Homo sapiens: one gene and its partners. The protein of the gene in region 7 interacts with the protein of the main gene of each other region in a biochemical or structural test. Each region holds a gene or a part of one and is shown on either strand. Other genes may lie near its edges.

The links.
Region 1: of the proteins of PTPRG (region 7) and NTRK1, one has a biochemical effect on the other in vitro, tested with the Homo sapiens proteins (one large-scale study listed by IntAct).
Region 2: of the proteins of PTPRG (region 7) and INSR, one has a biochemical effect on the other in vitro, tested with the Homo sapiens proteins (one large-scale study listed by IntAct).
Region 3: the proteins of PTPRG (region 7) and GRID2IP interact in a test that uses a peptide from one of them, tested with the Homo sapiens proteins (one large-scale study listed by IntAct).
Region 4: the proteins of PTPRG (region 7) and SYNJ2BP interact in a test that uses a peptide from one of them, tested with the Homo sapiens proteins (one large-scale study listed by IntAct).
Region 5: the proteins of PTPRG (region 7) and GOPC interact in a test that uses a peptide from one of them, tested with the Homo sapiens proteins (one large-scale study listed by IntAct).
Region 6: of the proteins of PTPRG (region 7) and WAS, one has a biochemical effect on the other in vitro, tested with the Homo sapiens proteins (one large-scale study listed by IntAct).

What each region holds. Positions count from the first base shown.
Region 1 is NC_000001.11:156,877,865-156,880,107, reverse strand, and holds part of NTRK1 (high affinity nerve growth factor receptor isoform 2 precursor), read right to left. Parts: intron 987-2,243; coding exon 746-986; intron 110-745; coding exon 1-109. UniProt on the Homo sapiens protein: Receptor tyrosine kinase involved in the development and the maturation of the central and peripheral nervous systems through regulation of proliferation, differentiation and survival of sympathetic and nervous neurons.
Region 2 is NC_000019.10:7,111,765-7,114,089, reverse strand, and holds the end of INSR (insulin receptor isoform Long preproprotein), read left to right. Parts: 3' UTR 1-1,825; downstream 1,826-2,325. UniProt on the Homo sapiens protein: Receptor tyrosine kinase which mediates the pleiotropic actions of insulin.
Region 3 is NC_000007.14:6,506,462-6,509,961, forward strand, and holds part of GRID2IP (delphilin), read right to left. Parts: intron 2,853-3,500; coding exon 2,497-2,852; exon of another isoform or gene 2,445-2,496; intron 1,941-2,444; coding exon 1,524-1,940; intron 1-1,523.
Region 4 is NC_000014.9:70,375,591-70,379,090, forward strand, and holds part of SYNJ2BP (synaptojanin-2-binding protein), read right to left. Parts: intron 182-3,500; coding exon 86-181; intron 1-85. Other genes in the region: SYNJ2BP-COX16 protein, read right to left, coding at 86-181. UniProt on the Homo sapiens protein: Regulates endocytosis of activin type 2 receptor kinases through the Ral/RALBP1-dependent pathway and may be involved in suppression of activin-induced signal transduction.
Region 5 is NC_000006.12:117,571,512-117,575,011, forward strand, and holds part of GOPC (Golgi-associated PDZ and coiled-coil motif-containing protein), read right to left. Parts: intron 2,122-3,500; coding exon 1,956-2,121; intron 1-1,955.
Region 6 is NC_000023.11:48,686,799-48,689,362, reverse strand, and holds part of WAS (actin nucleation-promoting factor WAS), read right to left. Parts: coding exon 2,408-2,564; intron 1,310-2,407; coding exon 1,267-1,309; intron 1,064-1,266; coding exon 910-1,063; intron 704-909; coding exon 297-703; intron 44-296; coding exon 1-43. UniProt on the Homo sapiens protein: Effector protein for Rho-type GTPases that regulates actin filament reorganization via its interaction with the Arp2/3 complex. Important for efficient actin polymerization. Possible regulator of lymphocyte and platelet function.
Region 7 is NC_000003.12:62,292,571-62,295,339, reverse strand, and holds part of PTPRG (receptor-type tyrosine-protein phosphatase gamma isoform 1 precursor), read right to left. Parts: intron 2,727-2,769; exon of another isoform or gene 2,623-2,726; intron 2,180-2,622; coding exon 2,033-2,179; 3' UTR 1-2,032.

The DNA of each region.
Region 1 (2,243 bases), on a different chromosome or scaffold from region 7:
CCCAGAGCACCACGCCGAAGCTCCACACGTCGCTCTCGGTGGTGAACTTACGGTACAGGATGCTCTCGGGCGGCATCCAGCGAATGGGCAGCATGGTGCGGCCTCCCACCTGCCACGGGCGGACACTGCATCAATTCCAGGGGCGCCTGGGACAGCCCGTCAAGGCACAGCCTACCCCAGCCCCATCATTAAAAATAAATACACAAGCTCGGTGGTTCACGCCTGTAATCCCAGCACTTTGGGAGGCCGAGGTGGGCAATCACGAGGTCAGGAGATCGAGACCATCCTGGCCAACATGGTGAAACCCCATCTCTACTAAAAATACAAAAATTAGTTGGGCGTGATGGCGTGTGGCCTGTAATCCCAGCTACTCGGGAGGCTGAAGCAGGAGAATCGCTTGAACCAGGGAGTCAGAGGTTGCAGTGAGCCGAGATCGTGCCACTGCACTCCAGCCTAGCAACAGAGTGAGACGCCGTCTCAAAAAAATAAATTAAATAAATAAATAAACAAACAGTGGTGGCTCTCAGGTCTAAGAGGCAAAAACCGAAGGTGCTGTTTCCATCTGGGATAGCGAAGGAGACAGAGCCCCCTCCACCAGGAGCCGAGGAGGTAGGTTGAAAACCAGAGCCAGTGAATCTCAGACCCATGCAGCCATCCTAGCAAGGGCAGGCTCTCAGTGGTCTTGGGATCCAGGGTGTCTACAGTTTGGATGCAGGGGAAGGCGTTGGGGACAAAGGACCCTTACACGGTAATAGTCGGTGCTGTAGATATCCCTGCTCATGCCAAAATCACCAATCTTGACCACCAGTCCCTGGCCCACTAGACAGTTGCGTGTGGCCAGGTCCCGGTGCACAAAATGCAGACCCGCCAGGTACACCATCCCCGCAGCGACCTGGCTAGCCACGGCCAGCAGCTGCCCCAGACCCAGGGGGCCTGGAGCCACATCCTCCCCACCAGCCAGCAGCTTGGCATCAGGTCCATGGGATCTGTGAACAAGAAAAGGAGAGGGGATAGGCTGGGAGGATAGAACTCCCAGGAGCCTGAGGAAGGCGATCCCCAGCAGCCGCGTGTGATGGGAGAGGAGACTGGGGACCTGGAAGTGGAGGATTGAGAGAACAGTAGAGGCAGCTGTCCAGAGGGGTGGGATGGAGGAGCGGAACAGGTGTGCCCACCTCCAGGGCTCCCACCAGAGACAGCCCATGGTTCCCACATCCATGCCTTCCTCTCTGGCAGCTCCTTGAACTCCAGATGCCCACTGGCCCCTACATCCCTTGCCATAGGCATGTCAGACTCAGCCCTTGCCAATTGGAGCTCGGTGTCTTTCCCCAAGCCTGCCCCTGCCTCAGGGAAGGGACCCTTCCCACCCAGGCAGACCCTGAAACCAGGGAGTCCTTGATTGTCCTGTCTCTCTCCCCTCTGCCCTCAGTGTCCAGCCATTCCTACGGGGTCTTCCTTCCTTTCGAAGGTGTCCAGGATGCCCGCCTTCTCCCCAGAGCGAGCACTCGGGTCAGTCCTAGTCACTCATCCATATTCCCCAATGTTCCTTCTCCTGAACCTTTGCCTGAACTGATCACTTTGCCAAAAATGCCCTTTCCTACTAGCCAATCTTCTCCTCATTTGTTTAGTTGAGGCATTTGTTAAACATTTCCAGTGTGCCAAGCACTGGGGCTACAGTGCAGAGTATGATGCAGATAAGCAGGTCATGGCAGTGCAGTGTGAGGGGCACCTGGCAGGCACCACGGGTGGGAATGGAAAAAGCCAGGGAAGGCTTCCTAGAGGAAGGGACACCTAAATTGAGACTCAAGTCCTGAAGCCATTCGAAGGGAGCTGAGGCAGGGAGGGGTAGAGTTTGTGTGTCTGTCTCCATCTTTCTATGGAGGGAGGGAGGCCCAATGCCCCAGGCAGAGGGAACTGGAAGTACAAAGGCCTGGAGGGGAGAAGGAACAGATGGTCCCTCCTAGGGGAAGTCTTCCAGACTCATCTCTGAGCATTAATGATTCCCTCCATTGATTCCCCCAGTGTTCCATCCAGCAGTTAGAGCCTCGTCTCCCACAGCCTGGGCCCCAGATGCTGGTATCTCCCTAGCCTGTGTCCCCAAGACCAGCACTGAGCCTATGCCATGTCTGGGAGCAAAGAGATAGGCTCCTCCCTGGCCTTCTTGGGCTCCTCTGTGCCTATCCTCCTCCACACTCAACCTTGGGTCTGGCCTCGCCTCCTGCTCCACACCCTGCATGGGCTCCCTC
Region 2 (2,325 bases), on a different chromosome or scaffold from region 7:
ATTAATGTGCTGAACGCTTTTTTTTTTTTTTTTTTTTTTTTTGCAACAACACCTTGGACCTCTGTGTTGGGGTTTGACTGACCTCAAGCTGATATTATTGGACCTTGTGCAGCTTTGATAACCCATGTGAGAGTCTAGGCAGGACCAGTGGGGCCCAAATCTTGCTGCTCTTGTACTTTTAGGCACTGCCCTTGCAGACTCACCTTTCTCCACCTGCCCTGGAGAAAGGTAGGGTGTGCTGGGCCTGCCCCTTGCAAATGGGATTCACCAGTTTCATTTATTTGACTCTACTGCCACAGTGAAAAGAGCAAACAGCTATTGGGTTGCAAACCTCCTTTGACATTAGGAAATGTTGACTTTGTAACAATAAAACTTTGGTCCTAGAAAGACACGGTTGTCCTGGGAGTTTGTAGTGTTAAGTTGCAACAACAACAACAAAAAGCAACAAAACCAGCTTAGGATAACACTTTTTGTTGCTTGTTCTTAAAGATGTCTCACTATGATTAAAACCCTTTTCATTAATGTAGTGAAAGCCACACAGGAGTTCCTTCTTCCAGGAGGAGAATACCAAGCACATCACTTTCTCTCTGCATCAGTGATGTCAAATACGCATCAGAAAATGTTCAGGTTTTAGGAGCTGTCCTAGGTGCTGTTTCATCATTGGAAGCAGTGAGAAAGAGAAGCACTGCTGCTTGTCTGGATATAGGCTGAGGATGATTGAGAGAAGCTGTGGGAACTGACACAAGGGTCTGCATAGGTCATCCTGTGACCCTGGGGACTATGTTACCAACTGACAGACAGATCTTTCACTGTATCCTAGCAGGGCAGGTAGTCCACCAAGAAATGTGCTTATTGGATTGGGAGGTGTTTATTTGTAGTCTGCTGTAACACGTGTGAAAGAGCAGGAGCGTCATCAGCATATGACTTGCGCTGGTCATCCGGTAAATGGATGTGCTGTAGTCCCAGTGCTAATCATTTCTCTCCTTCACAGTGGGTGGAAGTTTAGGGTTAAATGTCCTTTGAATGTCACCTGGTGAGTCCTTGACACCTTAGGCTCTTCAGAAACAATGGTTTTGTTGAGGATGGGGAACAGGGAATGCCGATTTTATATACATGGTACACAGAGAGGGGTGTCACTTCAGAAAATCTTCCAGCATGTTCTTCAGAATATTAATTTATATGCGAGGTGAGGTTGGGAATGAAAAGAACAGGTCAGCACTTTTTTTTTTCCTAGAACATACAAAAGAACATGGTGGACTTTCAGGGAGTGCAATGGAAGGTGAATATTTCCTTAAGGGTCCCCGAGAAATGGGAGTGAGGGGAGGGGACACAATGGCTTTTTGAGCTTACTTTTACCTTCTGATACTAGTCAAGGTCCAGAACCAGCCACCAGCCAAATTTCTATCTGGGTGCGGGCCACTGAAAATCCTTGTTAAAAACCAGATCACAAATCTGGGGCTCTTGGTCCCATTGGAGAAGGAAGGAAGAGCCTCAAAATAAGTGTGCACCCATGCACATATTCAGGAACAGCTTGTTTAGTCTTTACACTTTGCCTGAAAGTTGCTTCTCCTCGTCCCTTTGTGTGCCTGGGTGGCCTCGGCCCTGTGCGTTGGCAACGCAGGATCAAATGTGCTGCAGCTTTTGCAGAAAACAACTCAGAAACACAAAACCCCCCAACAGCTCAATTATTATTTTTTCAATGTTTTCCTACAAGAGCCAAGTAGCACCATGTACAGAAGACGCCTTTTTTTTTGGAATATTGAAATCGTTCTGCATGTAAAATATGGGATAATGACCTGTTTATATTAAAATTCTGATTAAATTATCTGAGAATACGCTTGTTTTTGTGTGGTGTCCCGGTAAGGACCTGTCGTGTGGTCGGGGGATGTGGCTATGAGTTGGGCTGTGTTAAGGAAAACCTCTTGGAATATGTAGGTGCCTTTTTTTAGAGGAGAAAAACACCTAGATTCTTCCACACATGAAAAGGGAGGTTAAATAGTTGCTACCAGCAGAGTTGATGACTCGTAGGGACATACTTGTATGGCCAAACTGGTGGTTTAAATATTGCACTATTTCCATACCATTTGGTAAGTAAGCGCTTCCCCAAGGGCTCCCAGACCTCCCCATGGTCCAACCACTAAAGGGTTCACTCCGAGAATACCAATGAACCTTCAAGATCTTGCTCTATTCTGACATGCGGGAAACTCATATGTTAAGTATTTTCAATGTCATCCTGGGAGTGGAGACCTGTCCCAGGTTGGGTGGACAGGTGAGTGACCATGGGTTAGACCATGGGATTGAAAGCCTTTTGAATAGTCTTTCTTG
Region 3 (3,500 bases), on a different chromosome or scaffold from region 7:
GCAGGGGAATGAAGTCTTAGAACATGGCTGCAGGGCAGGGACACTGAGGATGGATTTGGGTTTGGCCACATGTGTGACCTGTGTCCCTGTGTCCACCTTTGGTAACCAATGGAAGAACCACGCTGTGGAGCAATACTTGAAGATCGGTCCAAGGCTGGCAGGAGTGAGGTCTCCAGGGGACCCAGGAGGTCCTTATTTGTGCCCTTGTCTCACTGAGGTATTTTTTTTTTTTTTTTTTTAGATAGGGTCTCACTCTGTACCCCAGGCTGGAGTGCAGTGGTGCCATCTTGGCTCACTGCAACCTCCACCTGTGGGAATCAAGTGATTCTCCCTCTTCAGCCTCCCGAGTAGCTGGGACCACAGGCATGCACCACCAGGTCTGGCTAACTTTTTGATTTTTTTGTAGAGACAAGATCTCACTATGTTGCCCAGACTTGTCTTGAACTCTTAGGCTCAAGCAGTCCTCCCGCCTCAGCCTCCCAAAGTGCTGGGATTACAGGCGTGAACCACCAAGCCTGGCCTCAATGGGCATCTTTATTAGCAACTTGGAAAGGGTCCCTGGAGATGTGGGCTGAGAAAGCAGGAGACAGAATTGGGACCCAGGAGATGGCAGTGGGGAAAAATCACAAGCATGCCTCTGCCCAGTGTGACTACATGTGAGAGTGAGCTATTGATCCCAAGAAGATGGAGTTGAGGATGATGGTGATCATGAGCACTGGGACGGGGCAGCCCTGGGAGCTGGAAGGAGCCCCTGCCATATTAAAAGGAGTATGATGTCCCAGTCAAAGGAGCTGAGAACCCTGTTCTCTCCTCTGAGCTGGTCAAGCCCCATTGGGGGTTCCATCTGGGAATGTCTCTTTGACAGGGACATGGACACTGGAGTGGGGGTTGGAAACCATGTTCTAAGAGAATGATCTGAAAAAAAAAAAAAGGGGTGGGGTGAACCTTGTTCATCTTGCAGATTGGTTGGTCTGTGGATAAGATTGCTCTGCCCGATTTTAAGGGCCAGAAAGAAAACAGGGCATGGGAATCCTGGGGAGACAAGATTTCAGAGCAAGACAAAGGATGGTTAAAATCGTCCAGTGAGGAAAGGAAGACCTTGACAGGTAGTGAGTTCCCCACCACTGAAGGTGTTCAAGCATACACTGCCAGTGTTGTGAGGGAGGAACTTCAAGCATCAAAGTGAAAGGGTGAAGGCTGGTGTGCAGGAGTTTGAACCAGCTGCTCTTTTAAAGGTTTAAGAGAACTTGTCTGGCCTCAAAAGTGATAGGTTTCAAGGATGGGTAGGGTGGCATTTCCAGGTGTCCCCAGTGTGTGTCTTTGGCTGAGGGACACAGATTGGCTTCAATGCCTGCAGTGGCCCCCAAGCGTGGGGACGTTCTTGGGCTGGGCCTCTACTCATCCTCTGCTTGGGGTAGGGAGGATGATGTTGGAAGATGCCTGGCCGATGGGTTTTCCTTCAGTGCTGCTGCCCAAGCCATCCTCCCCCAGTACAGAGCGCTGCTGGGTCCCAGGTCACCTACCTGACCCCAGATGGTGCCTTCTGAGTTCTCCACCTGTTCCCACCGCAAGCGCTTGACGCTCATGTGGCTGGTCTCACTGCGCCGGTGGCCCAGGCCCCGGGACAGCATGGGGGGTGCACAGGGCACGGGTGGGGGCAGGGGCGGTGGGGGTGGTGGAGGGACTGGGTGGCTGAGTTGGGTGAGGGGCTTGGCCAGCGCCTGAGCAGGGCCCCGGGAACCATCAGAGCTGCGGGAGCTGGGCTTAGCGTCATGGAAAGGCAGGGGTGGCGGTGGTGGGGGGCTGAGCGGGGGTGGGGGGATGTGGTCAGAGATGGAGGAGTAGGTCAGGGAGCTGCCTTCTTCACTGCTGCTGATGCAGTCGCTGGCGCTGCTCCGCTCATTGGTTACGAAGCTGCCCTGGTCATCATGGAAGCTCATCTGGTGGTGGGGAGAGAGGCAAGGGGAGGGTGAGGCTGGGCCCAGAGAGACTAGAGCAGGTGCAAAGTGAAGGATCATGGGATAGCCTGGGACAAGGACAGGGCCATCTCACGGGTTAGCCTCAGGCTGTGAGGGACACCTGGGCTAAGGATAGGACTGTCTCACAGGTTAACCTCAGGCTGTGAGGGGGATAGCCTGGGCTAAGGATAGGACCCTCTCATGGGTAAGCCTCAGGCTGTGAGGGGGATAGCCTGGAATAAGGACAGGACCCTGTCACGGGTTAGCCTCAGGCTGTGAGTGGGATAGCCTGAGCTAAGGAATGGGCTAACCTGCGACAGGGAATATGGGCTAGCCTCAGTCAAGGAGCATGATAACCTTGAACAGGAGATAGGGTAACCTGGGGCAAGGGGTGGGATAGCTTGAGCTAGGGAGTGGGATAGCCTGGGGAAGATCCCAAGGGCAGCAGGCCCCTTGCGGGAGCCCAGGAACACTGTTGCCTTGCAGACCGCCACACCTCGCCTCACCCGCCTCCCTCCACACCTGCTTGCGTGCCCACCTCCTCGTAGTCGTTCTCCGGGGTCAGGAAATCATCCACGATGGTGACCCGGGGGCCCAGCTGCTCGCTCAGCACGTCCAGGAAGCGGTCAGTATCGCGGCTTCGCACAGGGTGGGAGAAGGTGAAGAGCTTCCTGCGGCTGGGCGGGCGGGTGGGGTCCGGGCTTGGGGGGCTGTCGGGGCAGATGGGCCCGGGGCCTGGCTGTGGGGAGGGTGCCCTGCTGCTGTCCAGGCTGGCGTAGGGGTGGGACTCAGAGCTGCTGGGGGAGGCCAGACCCCCCGAACACAGCGGGTGGTAGCAGGGGGAGGGCAAGAGTCGCTCGCTGGGCCATGAGACGCCGGACAGGGTCCTGGGCCCTGGAGGAGGGATGGAGTATGAGGATTCCTCTTCAGCCAGCACCGAGGTTCCAGGTGCAAGCTGGAGAGAGGGTCCTAGGACAGACTGGCTCTGTGTCCCAGGCCACTCTCCTTTCCCTCTCTGGGCACAGTGCAGGAAGACCTTGAGCGGCCCTGCCTTCCAAGCATGACTAAAGGCCAGATCTGGTGAGCAGGAGCACTGCTCGGCCTCAGGACAGGCTGGACGCCAGCTCACCTTGGAATGGTCACCAGGGGTCCCAGCTGGGAGCCACTGAACACCATTAACTCAAAGGGTGGAGGGGTTTCTCTAGGGCCCAGAGCCACAGTCATGGAGCGTCTCGCGCACCCAGCAAGCCCTGAGATCACAGGAGGGCCTCCCAGGGCTCCTGCCTTCTGAGCTGCAGAGCAACTGTCTTCCCAGCTGTGCCAACGCTGGTACAACGCGTTGCACTTGATCATTTATCCAATAACCACTTGCTAACTCGGGGACTTCCTCAGAATCAGGCATCTGCCTTCTTTCTTTTTCTTTTTTAAGACAGGGTCTTACTCTGTTGCTTATAGGCTAGAGTGCAGTGGTTCGAAATAGCTCACTGCAGCCTTGAACTCCTGGGCTCAAGTGATCCTCCCGCCTCAGCCTCTTGAGGAGTT
Region 4 (3,500 bases), on a different chromosome or scaffold from region 7:
ACACTGAAGATTACACACATTGGGCTTATTCAGAAGTACAGTGCAAAAGCCTGGTGCCAGGTTTCTGGCTCAAAGTGATACCTACCCTGTGCTGCACTCTCAGAGACACAGCATAGCCTGCATTACGAAAGAGGTCTACAGCATCCTGGTGCAGCAGGTTCTTTAGGTCTTGGCCATTTACCTGTCAAAACACCAAAGAGTAGTAAGAAAGGAAGAAGGCTATTAGAAGTCAACAATTTATTTTCAAATGGCCAAACTTTAAATAACAAACTCCTTCAGAGCAAATTGCAAGGACTAGGAGTATGGGCAAAGTTACTTAGAGCTCAGAACTTAGAACTTTTTTCATTTTCAAAACTATGTTTTCCTAGAACTGAAGTTCCACAGGCCATCTGAAGAGAACCTATGTAAAATAAAAAGTGGTCTCTCCTTCCTCTTAGCTTCTATGCCTGTCTCGTTTTGACACTTGGGAATCTGTTACCGTATTAGCATTTCTTCCATGAGTGTTAACCTGCTTCCTTAAAGATAGCATGGTCTTCCAGGTTACCACCCTAACCTTTATATTCCTAAGCCCTGGCATTGCCAGCTGCAACTGTAGAAATATAACTCTATGAAACTCTCCACCAATTTATTTTGATGTCATATAAATCTATACTAGCCCATTCTATTGGGCTTTTCATAGTGAACAACTTCCTGTGATTCCACGGATACTCCTATCCATTATATCCAAATTAGTAAATTAGTCATTTTTTAATCAAAACTTAGTAAAAACCATATTCCTGTGATGATATAAATCCTTAAAAAAATTTCAGTGTAGGTCACTCCTACCACTTAGAGGTGAGAGATGTGAAGGAATACTTGTATTAATACTTTTTGCAGTTAGGAGTGACATCGGCCACAAGTAATAATCTATCTATCCTATGCTGTATTCAGTGACACAGCACAGCCCACTTAGTGCAAGATTACATATCTTTTATACTTGTCAATGTCATCGTTAACAGTAGCAGCAATAAGAACATCTGATATATTTCTTTTGATAGGTTCTGTACTTTACATACATTATCTCTTTTAATTCTCATGATAACCCTATGAGGTAGACATTATTTTTATCTCGTTTCCACAGATAAAGAAACTTGAAGCTCAGTGAGATTTGTGCTGGAGCTAGGGCTAGGATTTGTAAATAATGAAAGAAAGATCAAAGTGTCCTTGCATTTCACTGTTCCTTCTGCACTGTTATTCTTCCATCTTGACTCACCAACTATCCTCTGCTCAGCTAATGCTCAAGTCACTCCCTTACTCAACTCTCTCATTTTCCTTGTCGCAATCTTCCTTCTCCAAGGCACTCATAATCTTCCCTCTACTCTCTCTCTTGCCAATACAGTTGGTGAATGAATCTACCAACACTTCTGCCCTATAGACAGTCTACCTTTGTAAACCAATAGTTTCCAACTCCATTCCACTTCAGTCACCAATTGACGTAAACTTAGACTTCAATATTAGACATGCTTCAGCTCCAATATCTCAAACTCTTAAAAACCTGACAACAATTTCCACTCTTTTCATACTTTCTATTCATCTACTGAATTTCCTCCTTGTAACCTTTTTAGACTTTACTTGCATCCTTGCCCATCTAGGAGTTCCTGTTGTAATTTCAACAAAGCACTTGGTAAATCATTAGAATCCTTTGTCCCCAAGATCTTCTGCCATCTTTCCAGTCCTGGGCCATATTCTGCAATCCTTTTCTTGCCATCATTAAGTTGAATATTCTGGGAGAAAGGTATATTCTCATTCTCCACCATAGACCCATACTAGCTGACTCCAGCTCATCCTTAAAACCGCTTCTACTCATTTGCTGAACTCCTTAATAAACACGCAGTGATAGCTGTTCCAGACCTTTTTCCACCACCGTCTCCAACCCCATTTCTACCTCTCTCCCTAGCTGATTCCTTTATCTTTTGTGAGAACACTGAGGACTTCTGATAAATGCTTTCTACATTTTCTTTCCTTCTCCCTCAAAGTTTCTTTATATCTTCTCACTACTCCTTTCCCCTAGTCTCTGAATTAGATCTATTTCCTTTTCAAGGTGAAACCATCCACTGATGATCTTGATCATACTTCTTCTAACCTCCTTACAAAACTCACAGACACTCTGTCTTCTTGATTACTTAACTATTATCTTTCTCTGCTCCTTCTCTCAACTAAAATTATACACCTCTATAAAGAAAACAATACAACTATTTCTTGGAACGCATTATCACTCTCCTCCCATCTTCTTTCCTCTTTCTTTGACTGCTAAATTTGTTCTAAGAACTGTTTGCATGCACTACCTCTATTTCTTCAGCATTCATTCTCTATTCCCCTGTAATCTCACAATGTATGAGGTAGAAGGGAAGAACATGTTTTTCTAAAGGTCACCAATAACTTCCAATCACCAAATCCTATAGCCGTTTTTGTCTTCAGACCACCTCCTCCCTTTTGTAATTTTCTCCTATCTTGGCATATGAACACTTAGCATTCTTTGTTCTTAAATTATTCCTTTCCGGATTTCCTCTTCCCTTTCTTTCTCCTTAAGGTGAGTCAAGGTTTTTCAGTATCAATCCTCTATCTTCTTTCTTTCTCTCCCACTGTGAGCTTTAACAGTTTCAACCATAATCTGTAAGATAACTCCCAAATTTGTATCCCTACTTGTACTTCTGGATTTGCCAGTTTCTTGCTGGATGCCTACACCTGTATACTCTGCTAGACCCTAATTCAACATATCCAAAACCTCTTTATTACTTCCCACAAAAATCAGAATACATACCTTGCTTCTTATTGCCACTATCATTCCTTCAAACTTTTTTTTTTTTTTTTTTTTTTGAGACAGAGTCTTGCTCTGTCCCTCAGGCTGTCACAGTGGTGTGATCATGGCTGACTGGAGACTTGAACTCCTGGGATCAAGTGATTCTCCTGCCTCAGCCTCCGAAAGTGCTGGGATTATAGGTGTGAGACATTGTGCCCCAGCCCAGGCTAAAATTTTAATAATAGTTTTAAACTCTCTCTGCTGTCAACTTTCATATACAATAGATTGCCAAACTCCACAGTCTAACACTATGACATCTCTCATACAGTATTTTCTTTCCTATTGCCTATTTTAGGCTGTTGACACTAAAAACAAAACAAAAACTTGGGACCCCAATCCACCATGTCAAGAGAAAAAATTAAGCTGCAAGCTGAGTCATGCAATAAACTGCTTTTCCTTTTGTTCCCAAGCAGATAGCTACAGATAACAGGTTAAATATCTCCACAGGTAATTACTCTATGTTCACCTTATCTTATGTAAAGTCCCAACTTACTAAGCAAAAGAAAATACGTAATTGACTATTCCCTTGCCTGCTCCTTTCCTCTGGCAACATGTGGATTACCATACCTTCCCTCTTTGCTCTTCAGCCTACTTTAAATATTAAAGCCCTCAAAATCATCTTTGGAGAAAGGAACATACCTGTCTCCCAGGCATGTCCTTA
Region 5 (3,500 bases), on a different chromosome or scaffold from region 7:
CCAGTTTTAAAATACTGATCATGTGCAAATGCAAAACAAAACAAAAAACCTTTCAATCCTTCACTATCTTCCTTAGCAACTACCATCCTCCCCCTTTCCTTAACCTCTACACGAAGTTCATCCTCATCATATCTACTTCCTTGCCACTCACATTCAGTCCTCTGGTCTCTGTAATTAGAGTTTTGCCCCTACATGCACAACTGGAATTTTCTTTTCTGTGGTCACCAGTAATCAATATTGTTACACACAATTAACACTTTTTGTCACTATCCTACTTCAAACTTGCAGAAAGTTGATACTGTTCATCAACCCCTCCTTGAAACCCACTCTCTCTGTTAGTTTTTATTACACTACTTTCCTAGATGGCCTGTATCTGACAGCTCCATCCCAGGCTCCTTCCTTTAGTGATCCTTTTCCTTCTCCCACTCCATAAGTTTCTATCCTTGGCCTCCTATTCTTTTTACTACATATATACTTTATATATACATATATACTTGGAACAGGCTTAATGAGTTCCAAGGTTTCAAGTATAATAGAAGGATAGTTTCCCTAATATTTCTTCAAAACAGATTTCTCTTCTGAAATCCAGAGTCATATGTCCAGTTGGATGTATCTTGGATACCCCATTGTCACCTCAAACACTACTTGTCTAAAACTGATCTCATCATCTTTTCCCCAAATCCTTCCTTTTCTTCTATTTCCCTTCCCAGTGAATGCCAGATCTCACTCAGTTGCTCAAACTAAAAGCCCAGACTCTTCTTTTTCACTATTTAACCAAAAGCAGTTAGTCACCAATCAAGCCCTCCTGATTATAATCCTCTCAAATCTATCCTTCTTCTCAAATGCCACTTCTCCTGACCTCATCACTTTCTCCTTGGATGACCATAGTATCTTTCTAATATATCTCCTTGACTCCAACTTGGTCCTCTTCACTATACCAAAATAACTATTAAAAAATGTAAATTTTATGAAGTCTGCCATTTTATTTAAAACTTCCATGATTATCAGGTTAAAGTTAAAATTCCTCTATTTAGTATAAAATAATTTCTATAATCCAGCCACTACCTAAAACCCCAACCTCATATTTAGCTAATTTAACAAGCATGCTTTTATCACTCAGACACATCTGATACAAACTACTTTGTCTTCCTCCTAACCGCTCCATTTCCCAAATCTACTGGACCTAGAAGTTAATGGGAACCACCAGTGCCCTAGAAAACAATGGCATAAGTGCTTATCGCTATCCCCACTTCTCTTCCACCAACTCTATTTACATACCAATTCTTCTTACAAAAATCTTTGCAGAGCCAACAAACTATTTTACTATTTAAGGCCATACATTATCTGGTACTAAGATATGTGAACCCTTGGGAGACATGCTTTCATATATTAAGGTCTATATTATCAAGCAGCTGTTATGATAAAATTCAATAAAGATTTATCCAGATAGAAGCTTTTATATAATGGTGGCTACAGAAGCAGACAACTGGCTACAGATCTCAAATTCTATCTTAATCCAAGACCAAACAGGTGTAAATGTTAGTTCAGAATCTACATTTGGATTCAGTTACTAAAAGTTCCCTTAAAGAACTACCCCAAAATATCTGCCAAATTATCAATATGACCACACACTCTAAGCTAAGATTAAAACAAATTCAAGCATGCCCAATCATGATCCAGGAAAAACTGGAAATATGATCCAACATTATAGCAATATGCATTTGCTAACAATGGCTCACTGTCTGCAGCACTCTCAGGGCATTAGTAAGTCTGTGAAGAGCTACTAAAATTTCTATGGGTGTTGAAACTTCATCTACTTTGAATAAGTTGAATCCCATTTTCACTTTTAAATAAAGGTTTCAAACAATACTAGAATAAAGGAAAGAATGGAAAGCAACTGTGATTAAAGAAAGAAAGAAGAGGCTGGGTGGGAAGCAGCAGCAAAGCAAACATACATGGCCTGGTGGTGCTTGCATTGGTCGTTTCAAGTCATTACGTCCTCTGCAGGCTCGGATCACAGTTTTGTGACGATGCAAATGTATTTCAGCTTCTAATTGGTTCCAAAGCTTATCATGAGCAGGTCCCTTCATATCTCGTCCTAGCAATTGTATCTGTTGGACCCTTCATATTGGGAAAAGAGTACATTGATTTTTCATTATATTCACTACAGTGAGAATTCAGGAAAATTAGTGAACATAAGTAGCTTTTGCATGAATCTCAAATTAGTGATAAAACTAATACTCACGAACTTCTTGATGTCTCTCAGATATAAAAAAAATATGAAAACTCTGAAAAGAACAGGTATCCTCAAGGGAAAAACCAGTAAAAAAAATTTTTAAAGGAATTAATGTGAACTCCTTTAGTCATATACTTAATTCAAATAAATCTAAAAAAAAATTTATGAGATTAATGTCAATCTATGTCTTGCATGCAAAGTCACTGAACTCAGATACTATTAAATGTTAGCTTTTAGATGAGATAAATGGACAAAAATATTTCTTCTAATTAGAGTTTCTTTTCACAAAATGATTACTTTAAATGTGGTTAAAAGTTACTAGAACCAGCCAGGGCAACAAGGCAAAACCTTAACAATTAACCAGGCATGGTGGCATGCCTGTGGTCTCAGCTACTTGGAAGGCTGAGGTGGGAGGATCACTTGAGCCTGAAAGGTGGACGCTGCAGTGAGCCAACGTTGCACCACTGCACTCCATCCTGAGCGACAGAGTGAGACCCCATCTCACAAAATTTAAAAAAAAAAAAAAGTTACTAGAAAATTTGTACTTCAAGATGATATAAATTATTTTTTCTTTGTTCCATGTTTTTAATGTGACATTAAAAGAATATGCACAAAATGATTTAGTACTAATAAGTCACCAAAGTTTGTTAATAATTTACTTAATAAATACAGCAGAATTCTGTGTATGATTATGATAAAATCATTGTCATTAACTAAATACCAACACGTTTTTTTGAAGGGCAAGAAAGACTGGGTTTCAGTGATCATAAAAAGAATTCCTTATGGAAGTTCTGCTATGCATGTGAATATCGGCTGTACTGGTCTCAAGGCACAAAATAGTTGAAAAGTGCTGCTCTACAGAGTTGTTAGCATTTCACAGTAAGATACTATCAGTGTTTGTGTGTGTAAACTAAACATATTTAGTATGGATAACTAGATCTGCGATACATAATGCTGTCAGTATTAATTTAACAACAGTAAGTTAAAACCAACTGTAAAATAATTCTGAGGAAAAAGATTAATGCTTCATTTACCATAAGAAAAAAGAGTAGGCCAGGTGCGGTGGCTCACACCTGTAATCCCAGCACTTTGGGAGGCCAAGGTGGATGGATCACAAGGTCAGGAGTTTGAGACCAGCCTGGCCAACATGGTGAAACCCCATCTCTACTAAAAATACAAAATTTAGCTGGCCGTGGTGGCAGGCACCTGTAATCCCAGCTACTCAGGAGGCTGAGGTAGGAGAATCGCTTGAACCCAGGAGGCA
Region 6 (2,564 bases), on a different chromosome or scaffold from region 7:
GAGGTGGTGGCTGCAGCGCTGAGCTCTCTGGGGCCCCAGGGGTCTGCAGCAGGCAGGGATCAGCACAGAGGGCTTAGGGCCTGGGAAAGGAGCATTTCTCCCCGCCCCTCCATCAATATTTTCTCTCCCACACACTCCAGTCCCCTTCAAGGCTTCCCACCAACCTTTCAACCCTATCACTGAATCCCTAAGGCCTGGCACTCTCCTCAGTCCTGGCCTCAGCCCCCCAGTATCCTGACTTAGACGGGACACCCCAGAGTCCTAGACCCCCAATCCTCCATCCTGCCTGTCCTCACCTTGTTCAGCTGAATTCCCTGCCGGATTTGATCCAAAAGCGCTCCCCGACCCCCACCAGGGGCCAGGCCCCCGGCAGGCACCAGAGCAGGAGGGAGTGGGGGAGGGGCTGGTCCATTCCCGGAGCTGGGCGGCGGTGGCGGTGGTGGCGGTGGTGGTGGCATGGGTGGCCCACCAGCTCCAGGGGGTGGAGGGGGCAGTGGTCCAGAACGTCCAGTAGCTGGAGGGGGTGGTGGTGGAGGGCCCCCTCGGCCTGGGGGTGGGGGTCCCCGGGGTGTTGGTGGGGGTGGGGCAATCCCCAAAGGTACAGGGGGCAGTGGACCAGAACGACCCTTGTTACCCCCCACAATAGGGGGCCGGGGGAGCTGGTTCCCTCCTCGAGATGGCGGTGGGGGCGGCGGAAGTGGCTCTGTGGAGGGGGTATAACACATAGCTGTAACTCTCATTGATTTCTTCTGAGCCTCAGTTTTGCTCATTTGTAAAATGGGTACCCCCACTGACCAACTCCTGACTGAAGCAGTATAGGTGCTCCCATAAGGACTGAGTGACTTAGTGCGTATCTTAGCTATGAGCTGCTTGGGCTAGAGAAGGGAGCGTATGGAAGCAGGGTCTCACCCTGGCGCCTCATCTCCTGCCGCACAGCCTCCAGCCCACCCTGGTCCTCAATGAAGTCGTAGATAAGTTTAGAGGTCTCGGCGTCGGTGAGCTGGGCCTCGCTGATTCCTGCCCTGGAGAACAGACTCCGCAGATCTGGGTCGAGGTTGTTCACCTGCCCAGGAGGAAAAAGGCCAGGGGCAGGAGTAGAGGAATAAGGCGAGGAGACAAGCGACATGGATTGTCGTTGGGTCCATCCCAGCAAGGGATCTGAGAGGGGTGTGGGAAGGGCACGATCTGGGGGTGGGGTCTCAGCAGTGGTCTTTGGAAGGGTGGGTGGAAGTTTAGTGGAGTCCAAGAGACTCTGAAGTTACTCACGTCAAATCCATTCTGGGGGTCCCACCCCACGTGGCTGACATGCCTGGGAGAGGTGAAGAGACTCCAGTGAATCCTCACTGCCCTTCCTTCCCTCCCTTCATAGTGAAACCCTCTTGCCCTCTCCTGCCCAAAGAGACTCTGAGGGGCCAGAATTAATGAATGAGACTGAATGAGTGAATGAGTATAGGCAGGAGTTATGGAATTAGAAGGGCTCCATAGTTTGTGGTGCTGATCCATCCACCCATCCCTCTTTCCCCATCTATCCCATGCATTTGTCCACCTATTCATTCACATTCATCTGTTGGACTACTGATCTGTCCATACATCTGTCTCTGCAACTATCTGCCCACATATGTCTGTTCACCCATTTGTCCACCAGTCTGTCCTCACACACACTTGTCCATCCACCCATCCACCTACCCATGTGCCCACCTTTCCATCTATCCATCCACTCATTTTTCTACCCATGCAACCACACACTTCTGTTCACTTATCCATTGAACTGTCCATTCATCCACGTATCTGTCCACCTGTCCATCCCCATCCACCTTGTCTGTGAGCCAATCAGCCTGCATATCAATCTGTCCACACACCTATCCACTCACCCATCTATCTATCCACGCACCTCCCATCAACCCATCCACCCATAAACTTGTCCATCCAACCACTTATCCATTCATTCTTCAACCCATTCATTCATCCATTCATTTATCCATCCATCCACCCATCCACTCACCCACCTACCCACCAGCCCTTCTCATCCATCATCTACCTCATCTATCTATCCATTTGTTCACCTGCCCACCCACCTGCTCTCCTAACAGCCCACCCAGAGTGGGCCCAGGGTGAGGCAAGTAAGGTGCCTAGGGTGCAAAATTTAAGTGAGTCACTCACTCTGAGAGTCAGGAATTACAGTTGCATGCCTCTGAGAGTGAGTGCCTCCTTAAATTTTGTACCCTTGGTGCCTTATTTACCTCTCCCTAGACCCAGCCCTGCACCTACCTATCCAACCACCCATTTACCCACTCAGCCACCCAGCCATCTGCCCATCTGCCCATCCTTCCATTCACTCAGCTGTCCACTTGTTCATGTGCCCCTCTGCCCCCAGGAATCTGTGGGTCCACTGGGGAGTGGCTCTCACTTGAATCCACTGGGTGCACCAATATCAGCTTTGCTGATCTTCTTCTTCCCTGAGCGTTTCTTATCAGCTGGGCTAGGTCCAGGTGCTGGGAGCCCACGGTATCGTGAACTCGTGATGTCAGGGTTCTGGATGTCCACTGTCGCCAGCCCCAGGGAGA
Region 7 (2,769 bases):
AACAACCCACTTAATTGACTAAAAAAAGAGTCTAGCTCATTGCTTTCCTGATTCTCCTCAGCATCTGGCAGTTGTAGTGTTCCTGTGTTCAAGCTTTACTTGAACTTTACAGAGCTTCCTGTGTCACCTCTGGTTGGAGCGGAGGGGCTGTAAAGGTGTCTCTCATCTAGCACATGCAACTTAGCATGCTCTCTTGAACATCTTATCTCAGGACTAGCTTACGCAGCTCTTGAAAAGCAGAGTATTCCATGTTGTTAAATCTATGTATTGAGAAGATGAGATAAACCCTGGTAAATTATGTAGTTTATGAAAACTCCATTGACCTGGCCTTTGCATTCAAATTCTTTAACTTGGCCCATAGCTTCTTTCTCCTTAGCACTTCTGGTCCTCCAGCACCATTCTGACAAACTTTATGAAAGCCAAATCAAGATAAATAGAACCTCAGTGCTGATCATCATTAATGTTTAATGCATACCCAGATGGCATGACAGCAGCCAGCGTGGCCTTTTTGTTGAAGTTAATTGACATAAAAAGTAAATAAAACCCTATTCTTCCTAACAGGCCCAGTTCTGGTGATGATTTCACTTTTGACAGAAGCTGTCCCTCAAAAGCAAACATGCAATAGAAGAAACAGATCTCAGTAAGTAGCTTATTTTCCTTACAAACACTACTGAAATTTCTTATTAATGCTCCTAATTTTCCCATTATGCACTGCAGCGTGAGTATGGCTCCAGAGGCTGCACCTAATAACTTCCTTGAGCTCTAATGATTATTGGTATCTTTTACTAATGTGTATCTGTTCTAAACTACACAAAAGCATACAAAGCCATCTCCCTCTTTTAAAAACTTGAAAATGTGGGTATCACCTTTAATTAAATATTTTAAATTTCTCTCTCCAAATCAGATTTATCTATGTGTGGGAGTTTAGATAGTCCCAAGACTTTTGCTAAGACAGTATTTCCAATTTAATCTTAAGTAGAAAAATGTATGTAATTAAGAGATTTATTATAAAACATTTGGCAAAGAAGGAAAGAAAACAGTAACTATGTAGGTAGTTTTTATTAGATTGCTATAGGAGTAATAGGGAATTTTTAGAGGACTAGTTTCAAAATTACACACCTGCAGAAGTTTTCATTCTTCTACCTACTGTGAGGTATGGTATTACAAACTAAGAAGCATTAATGGAGAATAACTAAAGGGTCTCATAACTGAGTTGTATATAATATTGCTATCTTGCTATTGTTAAAGATAGCCCTGATTTTAGGATGTAGCTATTTTAGAGAGTCAAAATGGAAATAACACATTGTCCACATAGCTACTGTGAAAGCTGTAATACAGAGTTATCCTTTATTTTGACACATTTTTAAAAAACTGTGAATATAACTTTGTAACTAATAAGGGATGTTCACATGAAGCAGTTCTTAAGCCTTCTAACTTCTTAAGGGATCTCTTAACCAGCATAAATGGAACTGTTTCAAGGCCATGACATTAACAGACCTTTTTAGGTCCCAGTAGCCTGCTAGTCTGTAAAAGAAAACAATGCTATCCACTCCATTAAAATACAGAAGGCATACAGTATTGAACAGTGCCTAAAATAAAAAGGAGAGGAGGACTGAAGAAAAGTACAGCATTGCCTGCTAGTAGAATGCAACCACTTCAGCAATAATAATAATAAAAGCAATATTCACTGTCATAACAAAGACCTTCACTGTATTGAACTAAAAAAAAGTAGCATGTATGTCGTCATGGAATGTCACATCAGGGTTTGCTGTTGTATAAGATTATAGGCAGTAACACTGATCATATAGTGCAAACTAGGTAAAATTGCGTTTCACTGTGTGAAATGAACAGAGGTGCAAATGCTCAGTAGGATACCATTAAGACATAAAATGGCAAAAAATAAATATCAAAACTTTTATCAGTGTAAAAAAGTAACTGGGTTATTGTATAACCTAGAGTCTGGCAAAAAAGGCCTCAAAAAAGTTCTCAGTCTTCAGAAGTTTACAAATTAAGTGCCCTTTCAGGATTCCAGTCACACTAGGGACTCCATGCTCTCAGCAGGGTCTGATTCATCTGCAATAAGAACAGCACCATTTTTGTCTACTGTCATGGGACCATTTCCATTTTCTTTAGTGCTGACCAAGCTAAGCATTGCTTTATAGATGAACTGGTATTGTTCCTGAAAAACAAGAGGAAGACAGTTTGAGCCAAAGAACAGTTTAGTGATTTCACATAAGGTGGAAATACCAATTAAAATGGTAATTGTGAAAAACACACTAGAGAAACAGCAATAGCATAAATGTTATCTAAAAAAACTAAAAAAAAAATCATTTGAATTTATTATAGTCAAGACCTATACCTTCTTCATGTCCTTTTGATCTCTGTTAGCTTGGAACCAATTCTCAGTGCTGATTGTTAATGAACAATCATTATTGGTTAATGAAGATAACCAATATCTGGTTAATATCTGGTTAATGAAGATAACCAGAGAATACTATCCTCTAAAGCAGGGCTTCTCAACCTGAGCACTACTGACATTTTGGGCCACATAATTCTATGGTGTTGAGGGCTGTCTTGTGCTGTGTAGTTTGCTTAGCAGCATCTCTGGCTTGTATCCTCTAGATGCCATCCATCTGCAGTTGTGACAAGCAAAAAAGTCTCCAGACATGGCCAAATGTCCCCTGGGGGGCAAAATCACCCCCAATTGAGAACTACTGCTCTAAACTGTGAGTCTGAGTTTCAACTGATGTAGTACAGGTTTTACACATA